Linked DNA regions of Homo sapiens. The protein of the gene in region 7 purifies or fractionates together with the protein of the main gene of each other region. This does not show direct contact. Each region holds a gene or a part of one and is shown on either strand. Other genes may lie near its edges.

Region 1 (4,040 bases), on a different chromosome or scaffold from region 7:
GGGTGCCCAGTTGTATTTATGAATTCTTTTCTTAATGGAAGTATTTAAAAATATGATGTTTTTATTTTGGCCATATCTCATAGTTTTTATTTCTTTTAGATAATTTAAAAAATGTTTTTTTTTTTTAGCTCAAGAGTTTTTCTTTTTAGCTCAAGAGTTTAGCTGTTTTTTGTTCGTTTGTAGGTCTCACTCTGTGGCCCAGGCTGGAGTGCAGGGTGTGATTATAGCTCACTGTAGTCTCAAAGTCCTGGGCTCAAGTGATCCTCCTGCTTCAGCCTCTTGAGTATCTGGGACTATAGACATGTACCACCATGCCTGGCTTATTTTTTAAATTTTTTGTAGAAACAGGATCTCATTATGTTGCCAAGGCTGGTCTCAAACTCTTGGCCTCAAGTGATCCTCTCACTTGAGTCTTCCAAAGTGGGGGGATTACAGGCATGAACCACCACACCTGGCCAAAAGAGTGGTTTTTAATCTTTAATGGTTAGATTTTTAGAGAGCTTTTTTTGTTGTTGTGTGGTTACAAATGATGAGTTAAATGTGGATTATGATTTAATTGTTAAGCATATTATACACACACAAATACAGATGCAGATCAAAGCATCCAGATGGCAGTTCATGACCTTCTTGGGATTTTACCAGCTGTATGATTTTATGATTATACCTTCTTTTCTTTTTTCCCTTTTCTTTCTTTTCTTAGCTACATATTGCACAATTGGTTTTATTTTGAGAATGTTGTGATAGTCCTTAAGACAAATGAAGATAGTTTAGGGTTCTGAAAAACTAGAGTGAAGTGATTGTTGCACTGCAGTGTCATTGTTGAGAAGTATGAAAAATTAGAATTGTTTTTTGCTGCATCACAATACTTTTGATGCAGGGTTAACTTTATTTTCTAAATTCAAAATTAATATTAAGGTAATAAATTTATATGGGATAGTAATACTTAGGCTAAAATGAAATTGCATATGGCTGACACATGTATGCATGTTCTCTTAGACAAATGACATCTCAAATTGGAAAAATTCAATAAATTTTTAGGTGTTTATTTTTAATTGTTATAGGCTATTTTTATAAACAAACAGTTTTAGATTAATGGAAACAATGAGGAAATAGTACAGAGTGTGCCTATAATACTCTCTCACACAATTTCTCTATTATTAACATTAATGTGATATATTTGTTATAAGTAATGAACTGATATTAGTACAGTCCATGGTTTATTCAGACTTCTTAGTTTCTACTTAAACTAAGTTTTCTTAAACTAAGATTTCCTTAGTTTTACTACTTTTTCTGTTTCAGAATCACATCCAGGATACCACATTACATTAACTTGTAATGTCTCTTTAGGTCCCTCTTGGCTGTGACAGTTTAATCTTTTTTTTTTTTTTTTTAAACAGGTCTAGATGTGATGATACTTATCTCTTTGAATTGTTATTATTTTTTATGTGTCTGCCTTCTGCAGCTACTTGAATGGTCTTTAAAAGGCAGCTTAACTTTTTTTGAATTTGCCTTAGTACCTAGCATAGTGCCTGTAATGCAGTAGTAAGTCCTTAGTAGATGGTTGTTACATGAATGAATGTTTGCCCGACTTTAAGAATTCAGGCCATGGCAATATCATTAGGTCAGTTGGTTTTATGTACATGAAAGAACAGTCCCTGAAATGCTTTGGTCAAACATGTTGTCTTGATACTGGTAGAAGAGATTCATAGACTGATTTTAGATATGAAAGTTTTGGGTCTTTTTAAAAATAATGGAATTTAAATTTTGAATGGGAAATACATATACATAGACATAATTCACAGTGCACGTTCAAAAGTAAGTCTTCTTAAATTGCTGCCATCCTGTAGTCACTTCCCTAGAGGTAACACTTGACACCTCTAGACTTCTACAGTTGTATGTGCCATTCTCCAGATATTCTAAGTGCATTATTTTTTTCCCTTCTATTTTACATAAATGGTAGCTTTCTGTGTACCCTTGCTTTTCACTAACAATGTTTATAGTAATTGGTTTTTATTTGTATATATAGAGCCGCTTTATTATTTTTAAAAACCACATTGTATTCCATTAAATACCATTAATTATTTAACCAGTACCCAGTTACTGAGTATTCAGGTTGATTCTAGTCATTTGCTATTACCCCTCCCTCCGCTCAAAAGTAGCAGTAACTATTCTTGTACGTGTTCATTAAACACATGAGAAAACCAAAAGTGGAATTAGAGGTCAAAGGGTATGTACATTCTTAATTTTAATAGACATTGCCAAATTGCTGTTTGTAGAGGTTACAAATCTACATAGAGGTTAACCAGTAACTGTTAACTGATCTATATTCCTATGAACAATGTATTAAAGTGCCTTTGTCCTTACACCCGCACCAAAACAATGTGTTAAGATAATAATAGCTAACATTTGTGAATGCTTACTGTGTGCCAAGCTGTTTCTTTGTTTTAATGCTCTTTACATGTAACAATTAATTTACTCATCAAAACAATCTCATGAGGGAAAATAGTGTAAGATTCCCTTTTTTTGGAGGCAGAAACTGAAGCATACAAAGTTAAGTAACATATGTCAAACTTTTTGCTATTTACTACTCTGATAACTGAAAAATAATATATGATTTTATTTGTTTAGTTTTTCATGTTTAGGGGCCATTTGTATTTAAGTAGCAATTGGTGGAGCCACCTCCACCTTCTGCAGTAATTCCCCCTCTGTGGTCCATGCAGTGTTCAGCCTGGGGTGACTGCCTGGATTCCTTGTCCTTTAAGGATAGTCCAGAACAGAAAGCAAATAACATTTATTATGCCTCTATTTTAATATTTTAAACAGACATTAGAATATGTTTATGAGTTTCCCCCCTTTCGTTTTAGTTCAACACAAGATGAGACACATGTGAATACTGGGTCATCGTCTGAAGTGGTGCATTTGGATGATGCTTTTTCTGAAGAAGAGGAAGAGGATGAGGATAAGGTTGAGGATGAGGATGCTACCGAAGAGAGACCATCCGAGGTTTCAGAACCTATTGAAGAGTTACATTCCAGACCTCATAAATCTCAGGAAGGCACGCAGGAGGTTTCAGTTCGACCATCAGTTATTCAAAAACTGGAGAAGGGACAGCAGCAGCCCTTGGAGTTTGTTCATAAAATTGGGGCCAGTGTGAGAAAATGTAACCTAGTAGATATTGGTCAGGCTACAAATAATAGAAGCAACTTGGTACGCCCCCCAGTGATTTGTAATGCTCCTGCTAGTTGTTTACCTGAAAGCTCTAACGATAGACCAGTTACAGCTAATACAACTAGTTTACCACCAGCAGCTCATTTGGATTCAGTTAGCAAATGTGACCCAAACAAAGTTGAGAAATATCTTGAACAGCCAGATGGGGCCTCTAGAAATCCTGTGCCATCATCCCATGTAGAAACTACTTCATTTTCGTATCAGAAACATAAAGAATCAAATAGGAAATCTTTACGCATGAATTCAGATAAGTTGGTTTTGTGGAAAGATGTAAAATCTCAGGGTAAAACTTTATCAGCTGGCTTGAAATTCCATGAACGCATGGGTACTAAGGGCTCCTTAAGAGTTAAATCTCCTTCCAAATTAGCAGTAAACCCGAATAAAACTGACATGCCTTCTAATAAAGGAATCTTTGAAGATACTATTGCAAAGAACCATGAGGAATTCTTTTCTAACATGGATTGTACCCAAGAAGAAAAGCATTTGGTTTTTAACAAGACAGCCTTTTGGGAACAGAAGTGCTCAGTGAGTTCTGAAATGAAGTTTGATTGTATCTCTCTTCAGTCAGCATCTGATCAGCCCCAAGAGACTGCACAAGACTTAAGTCTTTGGAAGGAGGAGCAAATTGACCAAGAAGATAACTATGAGTCTAGAGGTTCAGAAATGAGTTTTGATTGCAGTTCCTCTTTTCATTCACTGACTGACCAATCTAAAGTGAGTGCCAAAGAAGTAAACCTTTCCAAGGAAGTACGTACTGATGTACAGTATAAGAATAATAAATCTTATGTTTCTAAAATAAGTTCTGATTGTGA
Region 2 (4,040 bases), on a different chromosome or scaffold from region 7:
ATTTGAATTTTATATCATTTTAATGTGTTAAAACTATTATTATTTTGATATTTAATTTTTAAACAATAGTTTTAAAATGAGAAAAACATTCTTAGTTTGCAGGGCATACAAAAAGGGTTGGGATGGATTTGGCTCAGGGGCTGAAATTTGCTGACCCTTCATCCAGACTTACAGCACAGTTATCATGTTCAAGGAGTTAAAAGTCATGGGAGGTAGTAAAGTGGAGGAGATAGAGAAGATATTAAACAAATAATATGTTAATAATATAAAATTTTGATAAGGCTTTTAAGGAAAGTGAGAAAAACCTGGGGGCTATGAGAGTCTAATCTAATCTTAAAGGGCATGAGATAACTAGAGGCCTGGCATAGAACACTTACATGGGAATATCAGCAGAATTAAATAAAAGGTATTTCATTATCTGTAAGCTATTACAGCTTTAAATTCCACTGACATTTTGAACTTTATATTGTGAAGCAATGACTCCTTGTTACTCTAAGTGTGCCATTCTTTTGCTATATATTGTTCATAGAGTACTGAGAGGGACGATCTAGAAAACATCAGCGGTGATGTCTGCCACAAGACTGAGTCTAGGAGTGAATAATGGAAGCTTCCTGGATGTGGTGAACCTCAACTTTCTACCTTGTGTCAGTCAGGAGTAAACTTGGTGGGACATTCCCCAGAAATGGTGTGTCTTCAGAGGACTGAATTGAGTTGCTTGCGTAGAAGTATCTTCCCATCTAAGAAAATCTCTAATTTCAAAATACATTATGCAAGAGTCGAGGGGGTTGTAGAAATCCAGCTCAAGAGCCTACTGCTTCACTGGATGCAGTGAGTCATAGACCTGCTGTTTAACAGAGGGTAGTTAATCAGAGATCCTGAAACTCAATGTTAACATACCCCATCTTCTTAAGTGGAATACTGTACTTTTGTCTTACATGTCTTCTTAGAAAGATAGTTACTTTTTTTGTGCCTGAATTATTAGATTCACCACATGCTAGCCCTACTCTATCTACTGAACCATATTTCGCACTCTTCTTCAAGTAAATCCTTAATCCTTCAGAGGGTGTCATCATTCTCCCTGACTTTACTAACCCAAATATCACTCTAATTCCTTTGTCCAGTCTGTGCTGCAGGATAGAAACATCCTGACTGGTCTCCAGTTATTCAGATATGGCTCGTATATGAGGAACAATTATATTCAGTGTATTTTTAATACTTGAATGTATTTTCTTCATGAGAAACAGGCAGTTAAAGTATGATTTTGAAAAGGCAAAGGTATAGTAATATATAAAAATCAAATAACATGTATTTGAGCTTTTATTTAACAATTGAAAAAATCAGTAATATATTACAATTATTTCAAAGGAGACGCTGAAGATGAGACACATGTAGGCAATCAGGCATGCTGATATGAAGTTGGTAATAGATTTGAAACTGGTTAATATCTATAGAGCAATAAAATACAATGTTTGGAATCATAAGAGTGGAAAACTATAGCATTTCTACTAGAAAAAAAATCATTTGTATATCTATGCACCAGTATAATTTGCATTGTTTTTAGATTTTTCCAACTTACAGAGTTGTAAAATTGTAAAGACAATAAAAGGCATAGACCCCTGTGGAATTAGATGACCCTGGAACGTCCACCAGAGCCAATCCAGCAATGGTACTGGGTGTCTATTGCAAGGACACCCAGTACCATTTTGTATATTGCAAAACGTTTTATAGTTTGTCCTACCAAGGCAGCCTGGTTTCTCTCAGTAATGAGCTCTGAAGTACAATTGGCCCCTCAGTCAGCACACATGGTAGATAACTTTAGGGGAAGCCAGGATCAGGATCAACTCTTACAAGGTGTGGGGAGATGAGCCATTAGGTAACATGGATCCAGAAGAGACATGAAGGTGGAGAGGGGGAGACTCGGGGGCTGAAAGTAGGTTTGTGTACCAAAGGCACAACAGACTATATTTTCATTTATTGCATTTCTTGTAAAATTTATTTTTCTTTGAAAGAAAGCTACTGTGTTTTTTATTTGTTATTTATTTATTTATTATGGCCTGAAAGAAATTCAGTTTTTGTGTTGAAATCAGTGCTAAAGGAGATTGAAAAACATTTTGTGTCAACCAAACCTGTGGTAGATTAAGCTGAAAATCCAAGGAAATAATTGCAACAAAACCTTTGATTCTTGACATGACGAAATTGTGAAGCCTAAGCTGGGATAGATGTACTACATGGACCAGAATTACCCACTCGAAGTGTATTTATGGACTATCTACCACATGCCTGGTAGTGCGCTAGGGACGGGGATATGACCTTGAAAAAGAGAAGGTTTTTGCCCTCATGGAACTTAATACAAATTACAACTAAATAATAAGCTTATATAATTGAGTATGTCTTTTTTTAAATTGTATTTTATTTTTTAAATTGACAAATAATAATTATACATAATTATGGGGTACCTAGTGATGTTTCAATACGTACAATTTATAGTGATCAGATCAGGGCAACTAGCATATTCATCTCTAACATTTATGATTTCTTTGTGTTGGGAACATTCAACATCTTCCTTCTAGCCATTTGAAACTATAGAGTATGTTATTGTTAGCTATAGTCATCCTGCAGTGGTATAGAAAAACAAAGTGCTGTGATAGCACCTAGAAGCAACAGCAAGGTCAGGATCAGGAAACCTTTGTGAAAGAGAGAAAGCTGAAAGAATGATGTGTGAGGGATGAGGAAGAGCGGGGAGGTGAAGAGGATACTGGCAAATATGTATTTTAAGACTTGGATCCCAGAGAGCACATGGCAGACTCAGGTAATTCTACTAAGCATTTCAGCTAAACAGAAATCTATCTGGAGATGGGAAAATAACCAGAGATAAGGCTAGAAAGCAGGAGTTAGGTCAGAGAGGGCCTGGAGCCATGCAGAGAACTTGCATTTTATGTTATGGGTAGTCAGTAGGCAAGGAAGAGTGTTAAGTCCTTGAGAAACATCACCAGACTTACATTTTTGAGAGATAACTGATTGCAGTCTGGATCCGGGACAGAGGTAGGGAAAGAGGAAGACAAGACTGACAGTAGGGCGGTCCGTGAGAAGGCTTGTGCAGTAATCCAGGGGGTGCACACATTTATCATGGTTTCACGTTTGGTGTTGCTGTCATCTGGACGTCTTCATTTTGGAGAATTCCTCATATTCTGAGGCTCAGTGAGAAACTGAACTCACTTGTAATGGGATGTGAAATCTCCAAGTATTTTCTTTCCCAGCCGCTTGGAGACTGGGCACAAGTCTTGGCACTTGGCCTAGACAGCGATTAGATGTGTCCTTCTTGGACTCTGAAGTGAGAGCTGGTGATTCAGGGAAGCAGTGGGTCCAGGGTCCATAAGATAGATGATAGAAAGGAAAGAACTTGGTAATTGATTAAAGGCAGAGGTGATGCAGAGGCAGGGTTACAGGTTTCTCACCTCAACAACCAGATGACTGGTACCATTAACTTACATGCTACAAGTGGAGGAACAAGTTTTTTTATTTTATTTTATTTTATTTTTTAAGCTTGATTTTGATTTGAGCCTTTTGCAGTTGAGGGACCTTTGGTAACTCTGGTGTTGATGTCTAGGAGATTTGAGATGCTGATCTAGAGCCCAGGAGAAGGGAGAACAGAGCTGGATTGGGGATTATTAGCCTATGGGTGGCACTTTAAGACATGGGAATGCATAAGGTCATCGAGGAAAAAAGAAGGAGAAGATAGAATCCTTCGAATAATCACAGGGAAGCAAGAAAAGCTAGATATCGTGGAAGCTGGGAAAGAAAATATCTCAGGAAGCAGTACATGTCCTTTTGATTTTTGATTTTAGCAACTTGGGAATATTTAGCACCATTGCAACAGCACTTTCGGTGTATGCAACAGAAATATAAGCCAGATTGCTACATGGAAGGAAAGGAAAGAAGGAAAGAAAGAAAATATTACAGGTGTGGTGGTTTGTTTTGAAAAGATCATAGAAAGAAGGAGAGACAGAAGGTAGTAGTTGAACAAAAGTATAGACTCTGGT
Region 3 (4,040 bases), on a different chromosome or scaffold from region 7:
GAAATTGATCAATAAGCAAAATCTCAGACTATGAATCTTCAGATGCCAATATCCTCCAGACATTTTCCCTAACTGAAGAATCAAGGAGTGAACAATATGCAGCTGTCCCTTGGTGTTCCTGGGGACTGGTGCTAGGCCCTTCCTCAGACACCAAAATTCACTTTTGCTCAAGTCCCTTATATGAAATGGTATAGTATTTGCATATTAACTTATACACATCCTCCAGAACACTTTATTTTTACTTTTATACAGAGATGGGGTTTCATTATGTCACCTAGGCTGGTCTCAAACTCCTGGACTCAAGCGATCCACCTGCCTCAGCCTCCCAAAGTGCTGGGATTATAGGCATGAACCACCATGCCTGGCCGGCCTTCCATACACTTTAAATATACAGGCTGAGTATCCCTTATCCCTAATGCTTGGGACCAGAAATATTTCAGATCTGGGTTTTTTTTTCACATTTTGGAATTTTGCATTATATTTACTGGTTGAACATCCCAGTGTAGTGGCTCACGTCTGTAATCCAAGCACTTTGGGAGGCTGATGCAAGGAGGATCGCTTGAGTCCCGGAGTTCGAGACCAGACTGGGCAACATAGTGAGATCCCGTCTCCACAAGAAAAAGCTGGCATGGTGGCATGTGTCTATAGTCCTAGCAACTTAGCAGGCCAAGGCAGGAGGATTGCTTGAGGCTAAGGGTTTGAGATCAGCCTGGGCAACATAGTGAGATCCCATCTCTACAAAAATTTTTAAACTTGAAAAAAGAGAAAAACTAGTTGGTTTTTTTTTTTTGGAGATGGAGTTTTGCTCGTCACCCAGGCTGGAGTGCTCAACGGTGCGATCTCAGCTCACTGTAACCTCCTTCTCCTGGGTTCAAGCAATCCTCCTGCCTCAACCTCCTGAGTAGCTGGGATTACAGGCACCCAGCACCACGCCCAGCTAAGTTTTGTATTTTTAGTGGAGACGGGGTTTCACCATGTTGGCTAGGATGGTCTCGAATTCCTGACCTCAGGTGATCTACCTGCCTCGGCCTCCCAAAGTGCTGGAATTACAGGTGTGAGCCACCATGCCTGGCTGAGAAGAACAGTTTTTGAAAATTTCCATGAAAACAAAAAAAATAAACCGGCAAGTTGACAAGTGAGCAACGCTCTTTCACTGGGAAGGGGTGGAGGAAATCACATAGCTGGCAAGGCTTCGCATACAACCCAATGCTGAGAAAGGTTGTTTCTGTAACAATTCTCAATGCAGAGCACCCGCCCCCCTACAGGTCTGACTCTAAGACCTACCTGTCATTTGAAGCATTGAGTTCCAACATGGCATCTTTGAGTGCTGGGCCCAGCAGGGCCCGGGCCAAGCACAGAATGCTTGTGGTCTTGCCGGTTCCTGGAGGGCCCTGGGAATGAGATCTCCAGTAAAGACTTCAAACCACCAGAAGGACCTCAGGTAGCTCTTGAGTTATGTTCACTGCTGTTTGCATCTCCGTCACCTCTGACCCCTGCATTCCACCCACAGCACACACAGATCAATACAGCTGGCCGGAGACAGTGGCTCACACCTATAATCCCAGCACTTTGGGAGGCCAAGGCGGGCAGATCACCTGAGGTCAGGAGTTCAAGACCAGACTGGCCAACATGGCGAAACCCCGTCTCTACTAAAAATACAAAACTTAGCTGGGCGTGATGGCAGGCACCTGTAATCCCAGCTAGTCGGGAGGCTGAGGTACAAGAATCGCTTGAACCTGGGAGGGAGAGGTTGCGGTGAGCAGAGATTGCACCACTGCACTCTAGCCTGGGTGACAGAGTGAGACTCCGTTTCAGAAAAAAAAATAAATAAATAAATAAAAAAAAATACAGCAACCAACCCCAGGCCTCCCAACTAGAGTGAAACACTTCCCTTTGCCGGGGGAATGGGAAGGGGCTCTCCAGGGAGGCAGCGCTGTGCACAAGAAAGCAGTTCAGCGGACAGTGGGATGAGACATGGAGACACTCAACAGGCCCAGGGCTGGGTACTCACCGCAATGATGATGTTGGGCACATTTCCTTCCCTTGCAAAGACCTACGGCGAAAATGATCATTAAAACCGGTTAAAACTTGCTTCTGGATGACTACATAAAAAAGATAGAAAAAAGAACAAACAAGCAGGTTAAAACTCGGCTGAGCACAATGGCTCAGGCCTGTAATCCTAGCAGTTTGGGAGGCCAAGGCAGGACAATCACTTGAGGCCTGAGGCCAGCCTGGGCAACACAGTGAGACTCTGTCTCCTCAAAAAATAAACAAAATTAGCCAGGTGTGGTGGTGTGCTCCTGTACTCCCAGCTACTCGGGAGGCTAAAATGGGAGGATCGGTTGAGCCTGAGAAGTGGAGGCCGCAGTGAGCTGTGACTGCACCACTGCACTCCAGCCTGGGAAAGAGTGGGACCCTGTCTCAAAAACAAAAAAAAAAAAACACAAAACCTGGTTAATTTGTAAGCTTTAGGAGCTGAATCTCCCCAGCTACACAGCCTGTGTAGTAAACGTGGCTACAAATTTATCCACATGGACTGGATGCCCCATGGAACTCTCACCTCAAGTTCTTTTTATTCTTTTAGAGATGCACTCTGGCTGTCACCCAGGCTGGAGTGCAGTGGTGTGATCAAGGCTCACCGCAGCCTCCAATTCCCAGGCTCAAGTGATCCTCCTGCTTTGGCCTCCCGAGTAGCTGGGACTACAGGTACTCACCTCGGCATCTTCAAAACTGAACACTTCATTCTCCTGTACAAACCTGAGGCCCCACCCATGTTTCCCACCATGGACTGTCTATGCCATGAAGTTGAGGTTGCCATCATCTTGGTTTGGCCTCATCCTCACCCTGAGTACTTCAATAACCAGGGCTTCACCATCCTCCTCCTTCGTCTCCAGCGTCCTTTACTTCTCTCCATCCCTTCTCTCCATCCCGGCTACCACTTTCTTAAGCCCATTATCTCGTCTGATTGCTATCAATGGGCCATTAAGTGGTCTCCATGCTCCCATTCAAATCCATTTCCCATCCTGTAACCACGACCACTTTCCTAAAGTACACACCTATTAAAACATTTTTTTTTTTGAGATGGAGCTTTGCTCTTGTTGCCCAGGCTGGAGTACAATGGCACAATCTCGGCTCACTGCAACCTCCGCCTCCCGGGTTCAAGCGATTCTCCTGCCTCAGCCTCCTGAGTAGCTGGGATTACAGACGCCCACCACCATGCCTGCCTAATTTTTATTTTTAGTAGAGACGGGGTTTTGCCATGTTGGCCAGGCTGGTCGTGAACTCCTGACCTTAGGTGATCCACTCGCCTTGGCCTCCCAAAGTGCTGGGATTACAGGTGTGAGCCACCACACCCGGCCCTATTAAAACATTTTTCCCTAACTGAAATCCTTGACTCCTCCCTGCCCTCACTATGAAGCCCAAACTCTTTTTGTTTCTCAAAGTAAGGGTGTCCACTCTGTCACCTAGGCTAGAGTGCAGTGGCGTGATCATAGCTCACTGCAGCGTCAAACTCCTGGGCTCAAGGGATCCTCCTGCCTTGGCCTCGAGTAGCTGGGATTACAGGCACTTGTCACCATGCCCAGTTTGAACCTCAGACTCTACAGGCATGTGCCACCACACCCAGCTCATTCTTAAATTTTTTCGTAGAGACTGGTTTCACCACATTGCCCAGGCTGATCTCAAACACCTGGCCTCAAGTAATCTGCCCGCCTTAGCCTCCCAAGGTGCTGGGATTACAGGTGTAAGCCACTGTGCCCAGCCTTAGGTCATCTTTTAAAAACCTACTCAAGGCCGCTCGTGGTGGCTCACGCCTGTAATCCCAGCACTTTGGGAGGCCGAGGCAGGCGGATCACGAGGTCAGGAGTTCAAGACCAGCCTGGCCAACACGGTGAAACCCCATCTCTACTAAAAATAAAAAAATTAGCCAGGCGTGGTGGCGTGTGCCTGTAGTCCCAGCTACTGGGGAGGCTGAGGCAGAAGAATTGCTTAAACCCAGGAGGCGGAGCTTGCAGTGAGCTGAGATGGCGCCACTGCACTCC
Region 4 (3,127 bases), on a different chromosome or scaffold from region 7:
TCAGTGCAACATTTCAAAAAATATATATGCTGCAATCTAATAATTAAAAGGAATTTTACCTATTATGAAACATATTACATTTTTTAAGTTAGATAATCAGTTTCAAAAGGAGTATTCAGGTTATTTAACTTTGTTTTTAAATGGCTGCATCAGAAAAAAATGTCTATTTTTTTTTATTAAAATATTTCATCACTTGTTAAAACATATTTTTGATCTGAGTTTGGTAAAGTATTATTTTACCTGCTGTTGTACTACCACAGACTGTTGACTTTTAGTTTCTTAAAGAGAAAAATTGCCTTTTTACTAGAAAGCCTTTGTATATTGCAATTTTTCTGTTTGGGAAAATCTAAGGATTTACTGTGGTTAGTCTTACAGAAGAAATGTGGATTTGATAAACTAGTGCCTATGATTTTAACTTATGTTTGATATATAGTAGTAAGGGTTTTATGAATGTTGATTATTTTGTGCCAACAGCCCAGAATTGTCACTTATATGTAAGCAGAAAACAATGAGCTCTGCTTCCAAAGTTATTTAATTTTCTCAGTGTTTGAATGTTATTTTTTGTAAGTGTGTTAATAAAAGTGTAAAGAATTGGAAAAAATATAAATATTCTTAACTCAAGCATTTGCTGGATCATTTTTCTACAAAACTTGTTTGTACAATATAAAACACTCTCTGAAGAGTTGACTTTTTTTCAGTTTCGTATCCTGGAAATCACATTTTGTAAAACTGGGGACCATTCATAATTGTCAGATACTTTTTAAAATTATCTCAATACATCACTTTTATAAAAAAAAAAAGTTTTTTTGAAAGAAAATTAGATACATATGTGGCCCCAGATGTTTGTATAACTCTAGAATGATCTAGACTATGTATGTTTAAATTAACTTTTTATTGAATGTACAGGTGTCCATTTTTGACGTTAAGCATGGTCCTTTAAGGTCACATGACGTTTGATTTGCAAACATTTCTATAGCCGAACTTGTATATGTGGTTGCCTCCTTAATAAACAGCCTGACCATAATGTTTATTATTAAATTTATATTCTTTAAGTGTTTAATTAATCTCTGGATATGGTAAGATTCCTTTTTTCCTCTCAGTTGCCTACACTTGGTTTTAATAAATTACTCAGTTGAGTTTTTCTTTAACCACAGAAACCCAAATCATATTGCCCTTTCAGATTTAGTCTTCATGGGGTTGGATTATGTCTTATATTTTCTCTGTCAGAGTTATTTCATATATGGATTTTACTTGAAGGAAATTTACAGTTTACTCTAAATTGATTTGTTCTTGGAACTTTTTTACCTGCTGTGAATTGATACCTAGTTATAAAAAGCTAGCATTTGCCTAGATCATAACTATGTATGGTATCTAGTTAGAAAAAAACAAGCAAAAAGCTATTATGAGTTTCCAAGAGGGACAATTAATGCATTTTCATACCAAATGCGAATATTTAGGTGATCACGTGCATCTTTTCTTGTATGGATGGAAAAATCAAGAATTGTACACTGTTTAATGAGTTCTCCATATTCCTTTAGGAGATATTTGCTTTGCAATTACATGTTACAATTAGAATAATTACAATTAAAATAATATTACATGTTACAATTAGATTAATAGTGATGAGAGGGAAAAAAGACACCCTTCTGTTTTTTTCTCTCAAGCCAGTCTAAAAACTTGAAGAGCCATTTAAAATTAAATGTCACTATACTTGTATTATAAATCAATACATAAGTTTAAACCTGTTATATACTCAGTGCAACAGAAAAACCCATATGGAGGTTCAACCACTGATGTATTTTGAATGATCCTAAATATAAGTCTTGGGTGGCTAAATGGCCCTCTGCTTACCAGTCTGAAAATGAAACCGATTATACTCATCGGCCTTATTTACTGTAATACAAACTGGTTAAAACTATGTTAACTGAATGCTAGTTTGAAACAAATTATCTACATTAAGTCATCTTAATGTTTTCTCTTTAAAAGAAATAAAAAAATCTGTTTCTTCTGATTTCGAAAGTAATAGAAACTCTGCTGTAGAACATAAACTAAAAATATTAAAAAGTATAAAGGTAAAAAATGATAGTTGTCTGCAATCCCATAATCCGGAAATATTGAAGTACTGTCCGTAACATGGTTATGACATGTTAAGTGGAAGGGTAGAAGGTCTTTTTTTTTTTAAGGAGAAAATGTTTCTTTTAAATAAATGTTTCTTATGTAAAAATGTTGACATGAGTTTGCTTTTGCACAGAAGTATACATTAACTGCTATTGAAAGCTTGGCATATATCTTAATTCCTGATTTTAGATATTTCTTGATAAAACTATCGTATGTATTGTTTGTATTGTTTATAACATTAATTGGTTTTTTACAATTTATACTTTTTTTTTTTTTTTAAACAGTCTTGCTCTGTTGCTCAAGCTGGTGGAGTGCAGTGGCATGATCTCGGCTCACTGCAACCTCTGCCTCCCAGGTTCAAGCAATTTCCCTGTCTCAGCCTCCCAAGTTGCTGGGACTACAGGCACATGCCACCATGCCCAGCTAATTTTTGTATTTTTAGTAGAGACCGGGTTTCACCATGTTTGTCAGGCTGGTCTCAAACTCCTGACTTCATGTGATCCACCCACTGTTGTACCTGCTGTTGTATTTTTTACCTGCTGTTGTACTACCATAGACTATTGACTTTTAGTTTCCTAAAGAGAAAAACTTTCTTTTTTTTTTTATGAGATGGGGTCTCACTATTTTGCCCAGGATGGTCTCGAACTCCTGGGCTCATGCGATTCTCCCGCCTCAGCCTCCCAAAGTGCTGGGATTACAGACATGAGCCACCACGCCTAGCCTCTATACATATTGAAATTTGAGAAATATATAATAAATTATAAAGAAGAAAAAGTACCTAATTCAATAGGTAGTCAGCCACTTAAATTTGAAGATAATGTCTTTGTTTCTTTTTCCTTCTAAAATTGTAATCATATGCTTGACAGTAACTTTTTCTGAAGTCTGAATTCATGACTACCATGATGTAGATGGATTCTGCTGCTACAAAAAAAAGCCATTTAGTTCTGGAAAGAGTTTATAAATATTCTAAAACTTTGCCAAACTATATTATTGTAGTCCTTCGTATCGT
Region 5 (4,757 bases), about 30 Mb from region 7:
CATGACGGAGGCGTCGGGCCCTGCTGAGCCCGCGTGGTGGAGGCCAGTGTCGAAGAGTCCAGAGAGGCCTGGCCGGGGACAGGGGTTATAGTCAGCCAGGTGGGGGTGGGTAGGATACAGTCAAGAGAGAAAGGGAAGAGGCCAAAAGCAAGTTGGATCAGGAAAAGGAGGGGATGGGAGAGAAAAGGGCAAATTCAAAAACAAGATGGATAGAACCAAGCTAATGAGACATGAATGAGGGGAGGGAAGGGGGAAAGGTGAGACAGTAAAGCAAGACAAGGGGCAATCCAGTCATAAGGACAGGGGGCCCAGGTAGGAAATGGTAGACAAAAGTGTAGAAAAATCTAGAAGCGAAAGAGCCAGGAGCAAAAGAACAGAGTCCTCAGTAAGGCTGGGAGGGAGACCAAATTTGGATATTTCCAGCAAGGAAGAGGAAAGGATGGGACAATGAAGTCTAAGAAAGACCAGAGAACGTGTCAGAAAGGATTGAGCTAAGTGGGAGGGTTCAGAAAAAAAGATGGGGAGGGAAAAAGGGAAGGAGCCAATCAGGAGGGTCAAGGGTCAAACTGGACAGCATCATGTCATTACCAGTACCCCTAGGAAGAGGGAACCAATCAGAAACCTTGGAGGCAAAGGCAAGGTGGGTAGAATAAGGCAATGGGGCAAAATAAGATAAAACAGGGCGGGCCAGAGAATTAGAGCCAATCAGGAAGAAAGGGAATCAGGAAGAAAGAATTCAGAGTTCCAAAGAGCCAAAAGAATAGGGCAAACCCAGAGGGAAAGAATTGGGGTGGGTTGGGGAGAGGCGGAAAAGCCTGGAAGAGAAGGTGGGATTTGGGGGCTGATGGTAACAGGGCCAATTGGAGCGAAAGGGGAGGGGCGAGGCAGGGGCGGACGAATCCGGCGAGAAATGAAGCAGCGACCAGCAGCCTCAAAGGCAACCAATCAGAGGAGACACAGCAAGGGGCGGGCCACGGCACGGGCCACGGCCAATTAGGAGGGGCGGAACTTTCAACAGCCAATCAGCTGCCTCGGGGGGAGGGGGAGGGCCAGCCCAAAGCGGGGCGGGATGGGGGCCGTACCTGCCGGGTGGTGGTTGGTGGCATAGCTTTGCAGTGGGTGGGGGGCCGCATAGGCCTGGCGGTGTAAGATGTCCGTCTCGGGGTGCGAGGTCCTGGAGCTGCCATAAACCAAGCTGGGGGGAAAGGGGAGACGTCAGGGGGTTCTTCCAAGCTGCCTTCTGAGAAGGAAGCTCAGAAAACCCCCCGGGGAGTTGGGGGGACCCTTCCAGCTGACCGGGGTGGGGGGTGTTAAGCTAAGGAACCGTAGGCCCTAAAGGGGAGAACACAAGGGAATCGGGGTGCTCAACTAAAGAGCCACAGAAATGGCCCCCACTCCAGAGCCCGAATAAAGAGAGCCCGGATAGTCTCACGTTTACAAACAGGCATGCTCAGAGACGAGACTAACACACAGAAGAGGGTCCAAGGCAGAGCAAGCGTCTTGATTTGCAAATGAGAGCCCTCCCCCGTCGACCCCACAAACCCCCCCCAGCCCCCGTTCCGGCGACACAGGCTATGGGGCCAACGCCAGAGGTCCACATGGACGCCTCCTCTTCCGTAGACACACGGGAACACATAGGCCCTGAACTTCATGGGGTGGTGCAGAACAAGTTGGGAGCAGGAGGAAGATCGGTTCCCAAGCGGCAACGGTTTGGGGGGTGGAGAGAAGAGGGAATAAGACCTGGGGAAAGTACCAGGTACAAGTGTGAACAAGAACACCGACCATCCCCGGGGGTTGAGGTTCAAATGCATGGGCCCATGCAATGCCAGGTATGTGTGCAAACGGGTATCCAACTCACCCGTGGGGAAGAAAAGATATAGACGGAGGAATCCCACACGGAAAATCCTGACACACTTGGGGTTATGCCCTGCTGGGAAATCCAGGTGTGTTGGGGGGGAGGTGCTGGGGATAGGTGAAGTGTGAGGGCGCCACACCAATAAGCAACAGGAAAGGGGCAGATTCACAGGTGAACACGCTGCCAGCCACGCACGCACAGGGCCCACGCTCAGACACACAAACACACACCCGGGAAACATCCGACTCTTCCCATGCAACGGCACCAGTCCGTGGCCAGACTCAAGAGGGCAAACGCTCCACTCCTTGCGATCAACTAGGATTCTCTGCCTTTGGGGGTGGGGGCATTAAAGGGGGCGTGTCCCAGACGCCTGACCCCCTCCCTTACACACACACAACCCCAGCTTAGGAAGGGGGCGGGGCCCCGTGCCCACTCTGCGCGCGGAATTCTTGGGGGGGCGCCTAGTGGCGCGGCCTCGCACAGTCCCGGAACAATAGGACCTGAGAGGGGGTTCGCGCCCCCCAGATCTGCGTTCTAATTCTTCTCTTCTTCCCACCTTTGCAAGAGCAGTGCCTGGGGCGCGGGGGGGAGGGGTCACCAAGCCGGGAATCCAAGGATGGGGGGAAGTCCAGGCCTTGCTTCGCCAGTCCCTCCCACCTTCCCAAGGCCTTCCCGTCCGAAATTGTTTTGCACCCCCATTTTCCCGCTGCAATTCTCCCTTTGCATGCCGGAGCTGGCTTTGGCGGAGTTTGCAATTTGCAAACTGGGGCGGCGGCGTTGTTACAAACCGAGGAAGGCCGCTCCCTTGCAAGCCGGAGGGGAGTTTGCGATGCACGCGTCGCCGGGCGGGCCCGGCCCGGCCCGGCCCGGCCCGGCTGGGCTCCCACCCCTTGGCCCCCTTCTCTAGGCCACCCTCAGCTCCTTACCTAGCTTTCGCTGACCTCTCGTAACTCCATCCCGCCCCGGCGCCGAGCGGGTCCCCGAAGCCGGCGCTGGGGTAGTTCCTGTCCATGAATTGGCCGCGGTGGAAATTGGGGGGAGGGGGAGGGAGGGAGGGAGGGAGGGGGCGCGCGCGCGCTCTCCTCCGCCGCCGCTCCCTCCGCTGCTGCTTTTTTTTCCCCCCTTTTCTCTCTCTCTTTTTTTCTTTGCAGCCGCCGAAGGCCCGGGAAGGCCCCGGGCGGGGGAGGGAGGGGGCAGGGGCGGAGGGGCGGGCAAGGGAGGGGGTGCAGTCGCTGAGCCAAGGAAGGGGGAAGGGGGGTTCCCCCTAGAGGAGGGAAGGGGGGAGGAGGGACCCCGCTGTCTCCGCCTTTGCCCCGGCGCTTGCGAGAGAAAAGGGGGGGCGCGCGCTCGGGAGGGGGCGTCCCGGGCGGCCCCGGGGTGGGTGCAGGCGCTGGGTGCTCGCTCTCTCGCCGCCGCCGCCGCCGCCTCCTCCTCCTCTGCGCTCACGGTGCAGCCATCTTTGCACAAGGCGGCTGGGGGAGGGGGGAGGGGAAGGGGGGGCGGGCGGCGGGGTGTCTGGCTGCGCTCCGCTTCCTCCCACAATCCCGTGCAAATGCAAAAAAAAAAAAAAAAAAAGGGAGAGTGAGAGAGAGACTGAGCGCGAGCAGGGCCTGGGGGTGTAGGGCGCGTTTGCACAGAAAACCAGTTCCGATGCGCCCGGGATCGCAGTTCATTTCATTATTATTTTTTGCATTATTTCTGCTTTTTTTGGTCTCCTTTCCGAAGGGTTTTTATTTAGGGGAACAGCTCAACTCCAGCTCCCTGGGTGCAATGCGAGCCTGCCCGCACCGAGCGCGCTTGCAAATATGCCCCCCGCCCTTTCCCTGGGTTACGAAGTGCCCCTGTACCGCACGGGGAGTGCACGAAGACACGCGTGTGCACAGGCGGGGCTCTGCGTGTGCGTACCCTGTGGCACTGGAGGGGGCTGTCAGGTCATATCTGCCCATACACAAGATGGCACAGCCGGGGCTGGGCTCCTGGGTCCGAATTTCCCCGCGCGTCTGCCTACCACGGGGGCGGAACTGACCAGTGCCCTCACGGTCAGGAGAGTGTGGGGGCCCGTGAGGGGCCAGGACACGGGAACACGTTGCCGAAAACATGTGTATATCCATACGCGGCGGAAACGCGTGTGCCAGGGCAGGCCTCGGGCCGGATGACCCCTACTCCCACCATTCCCCACTCCAAGTCCAGCTTCGGCGTCTATGAGGCCTAGCGGCTTCCGGAATCCGGTATGAATCAGGGGCACGGTTCGGAGAGCCGGGTCTCGAAAGCAGCTCTTCAGTGAGGCCTCCTGAGGCTGCAAGAGGAAAGGCACACTAGGGAGTCAAAGATCTGGCTGTTTTTCTCCCCCCTTCAACCAGGACCACTCCGACCGCCCTTGGCGTCTCAGCCAATCCAGGACCCTCTGGGCACAGGCCCCACCCTCCTATACGGCTCCACACATACAACGCTGGGCCACGCCCCTAGACCATTGCATGGGGCCCCGCCCCCGCACTCCAAGCCCCGCCCCAGGTAAGAAGGCCCAAATTCCAAGTCCCGCCCCTGAGCCCAGGTTCCTCCTCCAACGTGCCCACCCCTCTGCGCCCCGCCCCCGGGCAGAAGCCACGCCCCATACCTGGTGTAGGGGGGTGGAGGTGCGTCGTGTACCCCAGAGGCTGCCAGCGCCTGCTCATAGGTGGGGAGGCCTGGGGGTGGGGGTGGGGGTGGAGGCAGGGGCGTCGGTGGGCCCAGAGGGTTCAAAGGACTCAGAGGGCTAATGAGCCCGGCCCTGGGGACAGCAAAGGTACAGTTAGCAGAGGCAACTTACAGGATACCTAGACTAGGGAGGAAGAGAGGGGATCTAGGAGACGGAGACTCAGGGTGACACTGGGACAGAGCTGGAAGGGAGGTGGACTTCAGAAAA
Region 6 (4,040 bases), on a different chromosome or scaffold from region 7:
TTGAAAATATTTCTTTGCCATTGTATGGGGATTGGATTGGGGCAAAGAGTGCAGGCAGAGAGACTAGCATGGAAGAACCTGGAGTGCATGCTGAGTTTGAGTTAAATCTTCTGGAAACTCCGTTTTTATCTCACCTGCACAGCCAACAAAGAAAAACTAGATCCAGTGGTCCCTGTTAAGATAATGTGAAAGATCTGAACAAATTCAATGAACAGATGTCATTTCCTGCAGTAAGTTTATTTTTATTTTATTTCTTTATTTTTTTTGAGATGGAGTCTCACTCTGTTGCCCAGGCTGGAGTGCAATGGCATGATCTCAGCTCAGTGCAACCTCTGGCTTCCAGGTTCAAGCGATTCTCCTGCCTCAGCCTCCCAAGTAGCTGGGACCATAGGCATGCGCCACCACGCCTGGTTAATTTTTTTGTATTTTTAGTAGAGGTGGGGTTTCACCATGTTGGTCAGGCTGGTCTTGAATTCCTGACCTCAAACGATCCACCCGTCTCAGCCTCCCAAAGTGCCACCGTGCCTGGCCATACATGCTATTTTACATACTGCCTAGAAGAATCTGCGTACTTGGAACTTTGGTTTTAATGTTGCATGGATATTCCAGGAAGAATTTTGTTGTTTAAGAAAGCTTTTTTCCTCTTAGTAGAAATAGCCAAAGATCCAGCTTGTGGAAGTGTAAATAACCTCTTTCCCCACCACTCTGCTCACTTTGTTTCCTGTGATCCCAAGGATCACATTTGTGGAATGTGCTTGTTCTCAAAAGCAGCCATTCTGTTTTGTGTTCCTCACACCTTGTGAGTCAAGAAAAGGGTCATAGCTGGATGCAGTGGTTGCTCATGCCTGTAACTGCAGCTGTGTGGGAGGCTAAGGCAGGAGGATTGCCTGAGTTCAAGGCTGCAGTGAGCCATGCTTGCACCACTGCACCCCAGTCTGGTTGACGGAGCAAGACCTCATCTCTTTAAAAAAGAAAGAAAAAAGTCATTACCATTATTATTACCTAGGCCTCCAATTAATTATTAAAAGATTCCTTGACTAATGGGAAATGATTGAACCAGAAGAGGGTGGTTTTGAGTGATACCTTCCTCCATGGTGAGGTGCTATCTTTCCTCACCACAGCACATCTCCAGTGACTTTAGTTGTGAAAGATCCGTAGAGAGTCTCCTCAGGATAGCATTAGGTACCAGTTGCAGTGCTGGCCTGCCCCTCATGTTGGTTTTTTCCTTTATTTATTTGAGACAGGATCTTGCTCTGTCATCCAGGCTGGAGTGCAGTGGCAAGATCACAGCTCACTCCAACCTCTGCCTCCTGGGCTTAAGCAGTCTTCCTGCCTCAGCCTACCAGGTAGCTGGGACCACAGGCATATGCCATCATGCCTGGCTAATTATTTTTGTATTTTCTGTAGAGACAAGGTCTCGCCATGTTGCCCAGGCTGGTTTCGAACTCCTGGACTCAAGCAGTCCTCCTGCCTCTGCCTCACAAAGTGCTGGGGTTACAGGTGTGAGCCACTGTGCCCAGCAGTTTCTTCCTTTAGATATGAGGGCATCCCCAGTTAAGTCAGTTGACATGTCCGCTTTTGTTAGTTCGATGAGTTTAACCCTCAGCGGATAGCTTTCTGTCAGCTGCCTCCAAGCAGTTCAGTGTGGCAGCCTTGAATGTGCTGGAGGCTGGAGTTGAGCAGCTCTCTGGGCCAGACGCCTCATCTGGGGAGTCCTTGGAGCTGGAAGTGGGAGGTTGTTGGGGGACAGGGTGGATTGTAAACTTTGCAGTTCAGCCCAGGACTCTGGTCCTGGTACTGACTGCTTGTTTCCTTGTTGAAATAAGATAAAGGAAATAAAGACCTAAACACAAAAGGGAGGAAATGAGTTATTACATAACTCTAGGGAACGAATTATGTTTTAAAATGAAACATCTGCACAAGACTCTTGGGTAAGGGGATAGTATTTTATTTTATTTATTTATTTTTGAGACAGAGTTTTGCTCTTGCTGCCCAGGCTGGAGTGCAATGGCGCGATCTCAGCTCACCGAAACCTCCACCTCCTGGATTCAAACGATTCTCCTGCCTCAGCCTCCTGAGTAGCTGGGACTACAGGCATGGGCCACTACGCCCGGCTAATTTTTTGTATTTTTAGTAGAGACAGGGTTTCACCATGTTGGCCAGGCTGGTCTCAAACTCCTGACCTCAAGTGATCCGCCCATCTCAGCCTCCCAAAGTGCTTGGGATTACAGGCGTGAGCCACCTCGCCCAGCAGGGGATAGTATTTTAGTGTCTTGTTTTTCTTTGTGTCTCTTAAACACCTAATTCAGAGTTGACCCTCAGTCATAGTTAGAATTAAGCTGTTTTCTCTCTATAAAAATGACCTAAACACACACCTAAACGAACACCCCCTAACCCAGAAGCTTTTTTTGTTTGTTTTTATAAGACGGAATCTTGCTCTGTCACCCAGGCTGGAGTGCAGTGGTGCGATCTTGGCTCATGGCAACCTCTGCCTCCCATAACCCAGAGGATTTTAAACCCATGGGTTAAAATCTGCTTTATAATAATCCAGGGCCCCACTTCATGGGCCTGAATCTTTTGGACTGGACATCTGTCCAGAATGGGCTGTAGCCCTGCCCTCCCCAGACAGAGCCAGGAGGGTGAAATATTCCTATAGCCCAGACAGACCCTCCCTGGTCATCACACCTATGCCAGGTTCCCGTAGGGGGTATAGAGGAGAGAATTTGGGGTCCAGGGAACGTTTGCCTTCTCACCTGCCAGCAGCGCTCTTGCCAGGACCTCGCGGAATACCTGGTGAAGCCCTGGAAGCAGTTGCAGAGCTGTAGTTTCGGTGCGATGGAGGTGGGGCATTACGAGACTCAGTCAAAACCTTCCTCCTTCGCCCTCCCAAACATTTACTGAGGATAAAAGTGCAGGATGTGTTTTGGGAACGTCAGTAGTCACTGCAGTGGGGAGTAAGGCTGCAGCCATAAGCTGGAGCCAGAGCCGAGGCCCCCCCAGGGGTTGGGCTTTGTAAAGGAGCCCCCAGCAGTTCTAGAAGCGGGAGGGTAACATAATTGAGTCTGTGTTTTAGAGACCTACCCCTGGCAGGAGTGTTGATTTGAAAAATTTCCGATGACTAATGCCTGCCTGAAACCAGTACTGCTGCCTGCTGGGATGAATAGCTGTCTTTTCATGCAGGAAGAGCAGCTGTGATTATAAAAAGCCTGAACACTGAAGCCCCCTCAAGCTGTTCACGAAAGAAGTTGAAAGCACTGGTGGAACCAGGGAACTGAGTGCATCAGATTGAGGGAAATAGCTTACTCCCTCCCACCGTGAGGAGCTCCTACTACATCCTCAACTACCGTTAACTCCCACCCCTAAATGTGCCTTTTAGGCTGTTCAAATAGATAAAAATGCCAGCACAAAGCATCTTGGTGGTCCTTCCTGCCAGGCAGGCATTGTGGTATGCGAGTTCTCAGTGCGTGCACCACCCGCTCGCCTCGCTGCTTGTGCTCACCCTTTGGTCGCTAGAGAGTGCTCCGTATCCCTGGGCATGACCGGAGTCCTAAGATTTCTTCAGCCTGCGGACTGTTTATCCTTCCTTTATATATATGTATAAATTTTTAAGGGTTTAACAACATATTGAAACTGAAATACCAGACAATAATGATAAGGAAGATTGTTTCTTTTTGTTTTGGTGGTGGTGGTTTTTTTTTGTTTTGTTTTGTTTTGATTTTTGAGACAGGGTCTTGTTCTGTCTCCCAGGCTGGAGTCCAGTGGTGTGATCTTGGCTCACTGCAGCCTGGACCTCCTGGGCTTAGTTGATCCTCCTGCCTTGGCCTTCTGAGTAGCTGGGACTACAGATGTGCATCATCACTTGCAGCTAATTTTTTTTTGGGGGGGGGGGTAAGGTTATAGATTAACAGCATCCCAAGGCAGAAGAATTTTTCTTAGTACAGAACAAAATGAAGTCTCCCACGTCTACTTCTTTCTACACAGACACAGTAACAATCTGATCTCTCTTTTCCCCACATTTCCCCCTTTTCTATTCGACAAAA
Region 7 (4,040 bases):
CCAGCACTTTGGGAGGCTGAAGTAGGCAGATCACCTGAGGTCAGGAGTTTGAGACAAGCCTGGCCAACATGGCGAAACCCCATTTCTACTAAAAATACAAAAATAAGCCAGGTGTGATGGTGCTCGACTGTAATCCCAGCTACTCGGGAGGCTGAGGCAGGAGAATCCGTGGAACCTGGGAGGTAGAGGTTGCAGTGAGCCGAGATCACACCACTACACTCCAGCCTGGGCAAGAGAGCAAGACTTCATCTCAAAAAAAAAAAAAAAAAAAAAAAAAAAAATTACCAAACAGGCTGACAAGCAAAACCTCCACGTGGGAGACGTGGGCAGTGGGAAGGGATGGATGACAGAGACATGCAATTTTTTTCTGTTTTGCTTCTCAGCCTTTTAATTATGAACATGTCATATTTTATAATCTAGAAAAATAACTTTTTTTTTTTGAGACGGATCTCACTGTGTTGTCCAGGCTGGAGTGCAGTAACATGATCACAGCTCACTGCAGCCTCAACCTCCTGGGCTCAAGTGATCCTCCCACCTCAGCCTCCCAATTAGCTGGGACCACAAGCATGAGTCCACACACCCAGCTAATTTTTTTGTTTGGTTTTTGTAGAGATGGGATCTCAGATCTACTATGTTGGTCAGGCTGATATTGAATTCCTGCGCTCAAATGATCCTTCCACCTCTGCCTCCCAAAGTGTTGGGATTACAGGCCTGAGCCACTGTGTCTGGCTGGAAAATATCTTTTTTTTTTTTTTAAGAGATAGCATCTCTAGGGCCAGGCACAGTGGGTCATGCTGTAATCTAGCACTTTGGGAGGCTGAAGTGGGTGGATCGCTTGAGCTCAGGAGTTCAAGACCAGTCTGGGTAACATGGAGACCCAGTCTCTACCAAAAATAAAAAAATTAGCTGAGCATGGTGGCACACACCTGTGGCCCCAGCTACTTGGGAGGCTGAGGTGGGAGGATCACTTGAGCCTACAGGGGGTGAAGGTTACCACGAGCTGAGCTGAGATCATGCCACTGCGCTCCAACTTGGGTGACGGAGTGAGACTCGGCCTCAAAAAATAAAATTAAATTAAAAAAAAAGAGGGTCTCACTAGGTTGCCCAGGCTGGTGGTCTTGAACTCCTGGGATCAAGGGATTCTCCCCCATCCACCTCCCAAAGGGATACAAGCAATGAGCCACTGTGCCTGGCCAAAAATATCTTTTTTTTTTTTTTTGAGATGGAGTCTTGCTGTGTTGCCCAGGCTGGAGTGCAGTGGTGGGATCTCGGCTCACTGCAAGCTCCGCCTTCCTGGTTCATGCCATTCTCCTGCCTCAGCCTCCCAAATAGCTGGGACTACAGGCGCCTGCCACCATGCCCGGCTAATTTTTTGTATTTTTAGTAGAGACGGGGTTTCACCGTGTTAGCCAGGATGGTCTCGATCTCCTGACCTTGTGATCTGCCCGCCTTGGCCTCCCAAAGTGCTGGGATTACAGGCGTGAGCCACCATGCCCGGCCTTTTTTTTTTTGAGATGGAGTCTTGCTCTCACCTAGGCTGGATGGAGTACAATGACACGACCTCGGCTTACTGCAACCTCTCTGCCTCCTGGGTTCAAGCAATTCTCCTGTCTCAGCCTCCAGAATAGCTGGGAGTACAGATGTGTGCCACCACACCTGGCTAATTTTTGTATTTTCAGTAGAGATGAGGTTTCACCATGTTGACCAGGCTGGTCTTGAACTCTTGACCTCAAGTGATCTGCCCACCTCAGCCTCCCAAAGTGCTGGGATTACAGGCATGAGCCACCGTGCCTGTCCCAAAAACATCTTTTTTTTTTTTTTCTGAGACAGAGTCTCACTCTGTTGCCCAGGCTGGAGTGCAGCGGCATGATCTCCGTTCAATGCAACCTCTGCCTCCTGGGTTCAAGTGATTCTCATGCCTCAGCCTCCCGAGTAGCTTGGATTACAGGCGTCCACCACCACGCCCCACTAATTTTTGTATTTTTAGTAAGAGACAGGGTTTCACTATGTTGGCTAGGCTGGTCTTGAACTCCTGACCTCAGGTGATCTGCCCGCCTTGGCCTCCCAAAGTGCTGGGATTACAGGCGTGAGCCATTGTGCCTGCCCAAAATATCTTCTTAAAAAAAAAAAAAAAAAAAAAAAATTCAAGACCTCGTGAGATCAGTGGGTGAGAGTAGGCGAGGAATTGACAGGAAGGACTGAGGCGGCCAGTCCCACCAGAGACTGGCTGACCTTGGGTGGGGACCAATCCCAGGGGCCACTTGTACCCTGAGAGGACACTGTGTTGGCCAAGGATGATATGTTTGGAAGTCCGGCTGAGAGGAGACACCTCTCTGCCCCTCAGGTGTCAACACATAGCATGGGGTGGCTGCGTCATCCCCAGTAGCTCAGGGCAGCTCCTTTGGTTCTGGCTTCAGCTCCCCTGAGCCCTGGGGCTCTGCCTGCCCAATGTCTGAGGCCACACCCATCAGGCCTCCTGCCTTCCCCCCACACCCTCTGTGGGTGCCCAGCTCCTCTGGCCCTGCCTGCCCAGGCTGTGGGAGTCAGGGCATCCACCTAGACGTGCTCTTCGAGGGGCATAGGATGAACAGTGCCATGCCACCCTTAGGGTGCTGGCCGGCTCCTGTCCCTCAGCCAAGCCCCACAGGCACCCAAGCGAGGGGCCCAGGCCAGGGCACTCACCCTGTGGTTTCCCAGCACATAGAAGATGTGGCCCAGAAGCACGAGGGAGCAGGCTGTGAGCCGGTTCAGGTCCTCAGCATTGGACATCTTCAGAGTTTCCCGCAGAAATCGCCTGACAAGGAGAACATGGACGCTGATAACTGCAGGACGGGGCCTGGGCTACCCTGAGCATGGCCCTCACGCCACCCTCTGCCCCACACTTACTTGGCCTCGTTGTAGCGTCCCTGGAAGAAGGAGAAGAGCCCACGCACATAGAAGGCGGCTGCTCGGAGGCAGTGCGAGCTGCAGGGAGAGTGCAGTATCACATGGGGTGGTGATTTTGAGAAGCAGGTTTACAAAACGGCAGTGGGCAGCTGGGGGCTATTTCTGAGAGCCCCCACTGCAGACTGTCTGTGAGGAGGGGTATGGGGTGTCAGGGTGCAAGGGGCAGTCAGGGGCCCCAACCAAAGAGCACGGGGAGCCTAGGCCGTGCGTGGAGTGGTGCCTGGAGCGGCTCACCTGACAGGGAAGCTGTGGTCCGGGTTGATCCTCTCCAGCAGACTGTAGAGCTGCGGGGGAAAGAGCCAGTCAGCACCATTCTGCATCTTCACAGGAGAAAGGTCCCCAAGACACACTGCAGTGCATGGGAATTTCTCTACACCCCCGTCGGGACTGTGGCCTCCAGGCTGAGCCTGGTGACTGACCAGCAAGAGCAGCCTCTGGTGAGAAGGGCCGGGGGCAAGATTTCCACACCCTCAGCCAGCCCTGCCTGTGCCACCCTGTCCTGCAGTAGGTGACAGGGGCCTGGGCGTCCAGAAGGCCTTTGTATGGTCAGAGTGGTGCTGAGGGGCTGGCCTGGCAGTGGGTAGGTTGGCAGGCTGGGGCCCGTGAGCCCTGTGGGCTGTGGGGGTGAGTGGGTGGGATTTCTCTGGAGGTGCAGGGACCCCGGGAGGCTCTGATGGGGGCGTGATCTGACTGATAATTTAGCTGCCCTCTAGCTGCAGAGGCACAGGGGAGCCAAACTCCTCCTCAACACTGCGAGCCCACGTATGGCATCGGATGACTAAGCCGGGGCTGGGCTTTCTTTTTCCTTTGAGACAGGTTCTTGCTCTGTCGCCCAGGCTGGAGTGCAGTGGCTGGATCATGGCTCACTGCAGCCCTCAATCTCCCTAGCTCAAGCAATCCTCCTGCCTCAGTCTCCCGAGTAGTTGGGACCACAGGCCTGCACCCCACCAAGTTTTTAAAAAATTTTTTTGTAGAAATGGGGGTCTCCCTATGTTGCCCAGGCTGGTCTTGAACTCCTGACCTCAAGTGATCCTCCTGCCTTGCTTCCCAAAGTGCTGGGATTACAGGTGTGAGCCAAGCACCTGGCCTGATAC

The links.
Region 1: the proteins of MAU2 (region 7) and ZDBF2 purify together in Homo sapiens (affinity purification with mass spectrometry, with the first as the bait; one large-scale study listed by BioGRID). This does not show direct contact.
Region 2: the proteins of MAU2 (region 7) and PALLD purify together in Homo sapiens (affinity purification with mass spectrometry, with the first as the bait; one large-scale study listed by BioGRID). This does not show direct contact.
Region 3: the proteins of MAU2 (region 7) and RFC2 purify together in Homo sapiens (affinity purification with mass spectrometry, with the first as the bait; one large-scale study listed by BioGRID). This does not show direct contact.
Region 4: the proteins of MAU2 (region 7) and SLAIN2 purify together in Homo sapiens (affinity purification with mass spectrometry, with the first as the bait; one large-scale study listed by BioGRID). This does not show direct contact.
Region 5: the proteins of MAU2 (region 7) and PRR12 purify together in Homo sapiens (affinity purification with mass spectrometry, with the first as the bait; one large-scale study listed by BioGRID). This does not show direct contact.
Region 6: the proteins of MAU2 (region 7) and POLDIP3 purify together in Homo sapiens (affinity purification with mass spectrometry, with the first as the bait; one large-scale study listed by BioGRID). This does not show direct contact.

The regions. Positions count from the first base shown.
Region 1 is NC_000002.12:206,301,853-206,305,892, forward strand, and holds part of ZDBF2 (DBF4-type zinc finger-containing protein 2), read left to right. Parts: intron 1-2,864; coding exon 2,865-4,040.
Region 2 is NC_000004.12:168,506,658-168,510,697, reverse strand, and holds part of PALLD (palladin), read right to left. Parts: intron 3,339-4,040; exon of another isoform or gene 3,122-3,338; coding exon of another isoform or gene 3,000-3,121; intron 1-2,999. UniProt on the Homo sapiens protein: Cytoskeletal protein required for organization of normal actin cytoskeleton. Roles in establishing cell morphology, motility, cell adhesion and cell-extracellular matrix interactions in a variety of cell types.
Region 3 is NC_000007.14:74,247,728-74,251,767, forward strand, and holds part of RFC2 (replication factor C subunit 2), read right to left. Parts: intron 2,054-4,040; coding exon 2,012-2,053; intron 1,494-2,011; exon of another isoform or gene 1,392-1,493; coding exon 1,285-1,391; intron 1-1,284.
Region 4 is NC_000004.12:48,423,978-48,427,104, forward strand, and holds the end of SLAIN2 (SLAIN motif-containing protein 2), read left to right. Parts: 3' UTR 1-2,224; downstream 2,225-3,127.
Region 5 is NC_000019.10:49,589,765-49,594,521, reverse strand, and holds the start of PRR12 (proline-rich protein 12), read right to left. Parts: upstream 3,341-4,757; 5' UTR 2,868-3,340; coding exon 2,782-2,867; intron 1,196-2,781; coding exon 1,083-1,195; intron 69-1,082; coding exon 1-68. Other genes in the region: PRRG2 (transmembrane gamma-carboxyglutamic acid protein 2 isoform 1 precursor), read right to left, coding at 4,133-4,151, 4,470-4,622.
Region 6 is NC_000022.11:42,608,103-42,612,142, reverse strand, and holds part of POLDIP3 (polymerase delta-interacting protein 3), read left to right. Parts: exon of another isoform or gene 1-230; intron 231-3,180; exon of another isoform or gene 3,181-3,408; intron 3,409-4,040. UniProt on the Homo sapiens protein: Is involved in regulation of translation. Is preferentially associated with CBC-bound spliced mRNA-protein complexes during the pioneer round of mRNA translation. Contributes to enhanced translational efficiency of spliced over nonspliced mRNAs.
Region 7 is NC_000019.10:19,348,079-19,352,118, reverse strand, and holds part of MAU2 (MAU2 chromatid cohesion factor homolog), read right to left. Parts: intron 3,231-4,040; coding exon 3,181-3,230; intron 2,965-3,180; coding exon 2,887-2,964; intron 2,795-2,886; coding exon 2,683-2,794; exon of another isoform or gene 2,678-2,682; intron 1-2,677. UniProt on the Homo sapiens protein: Plays an important role in the loading of the cohesin complex on to DNA. Forms a heterodimeric complex (also known as cohesin loading complex) with NIPBL/SCC2 which mediates the loading of the cohesin complex onto chromatin.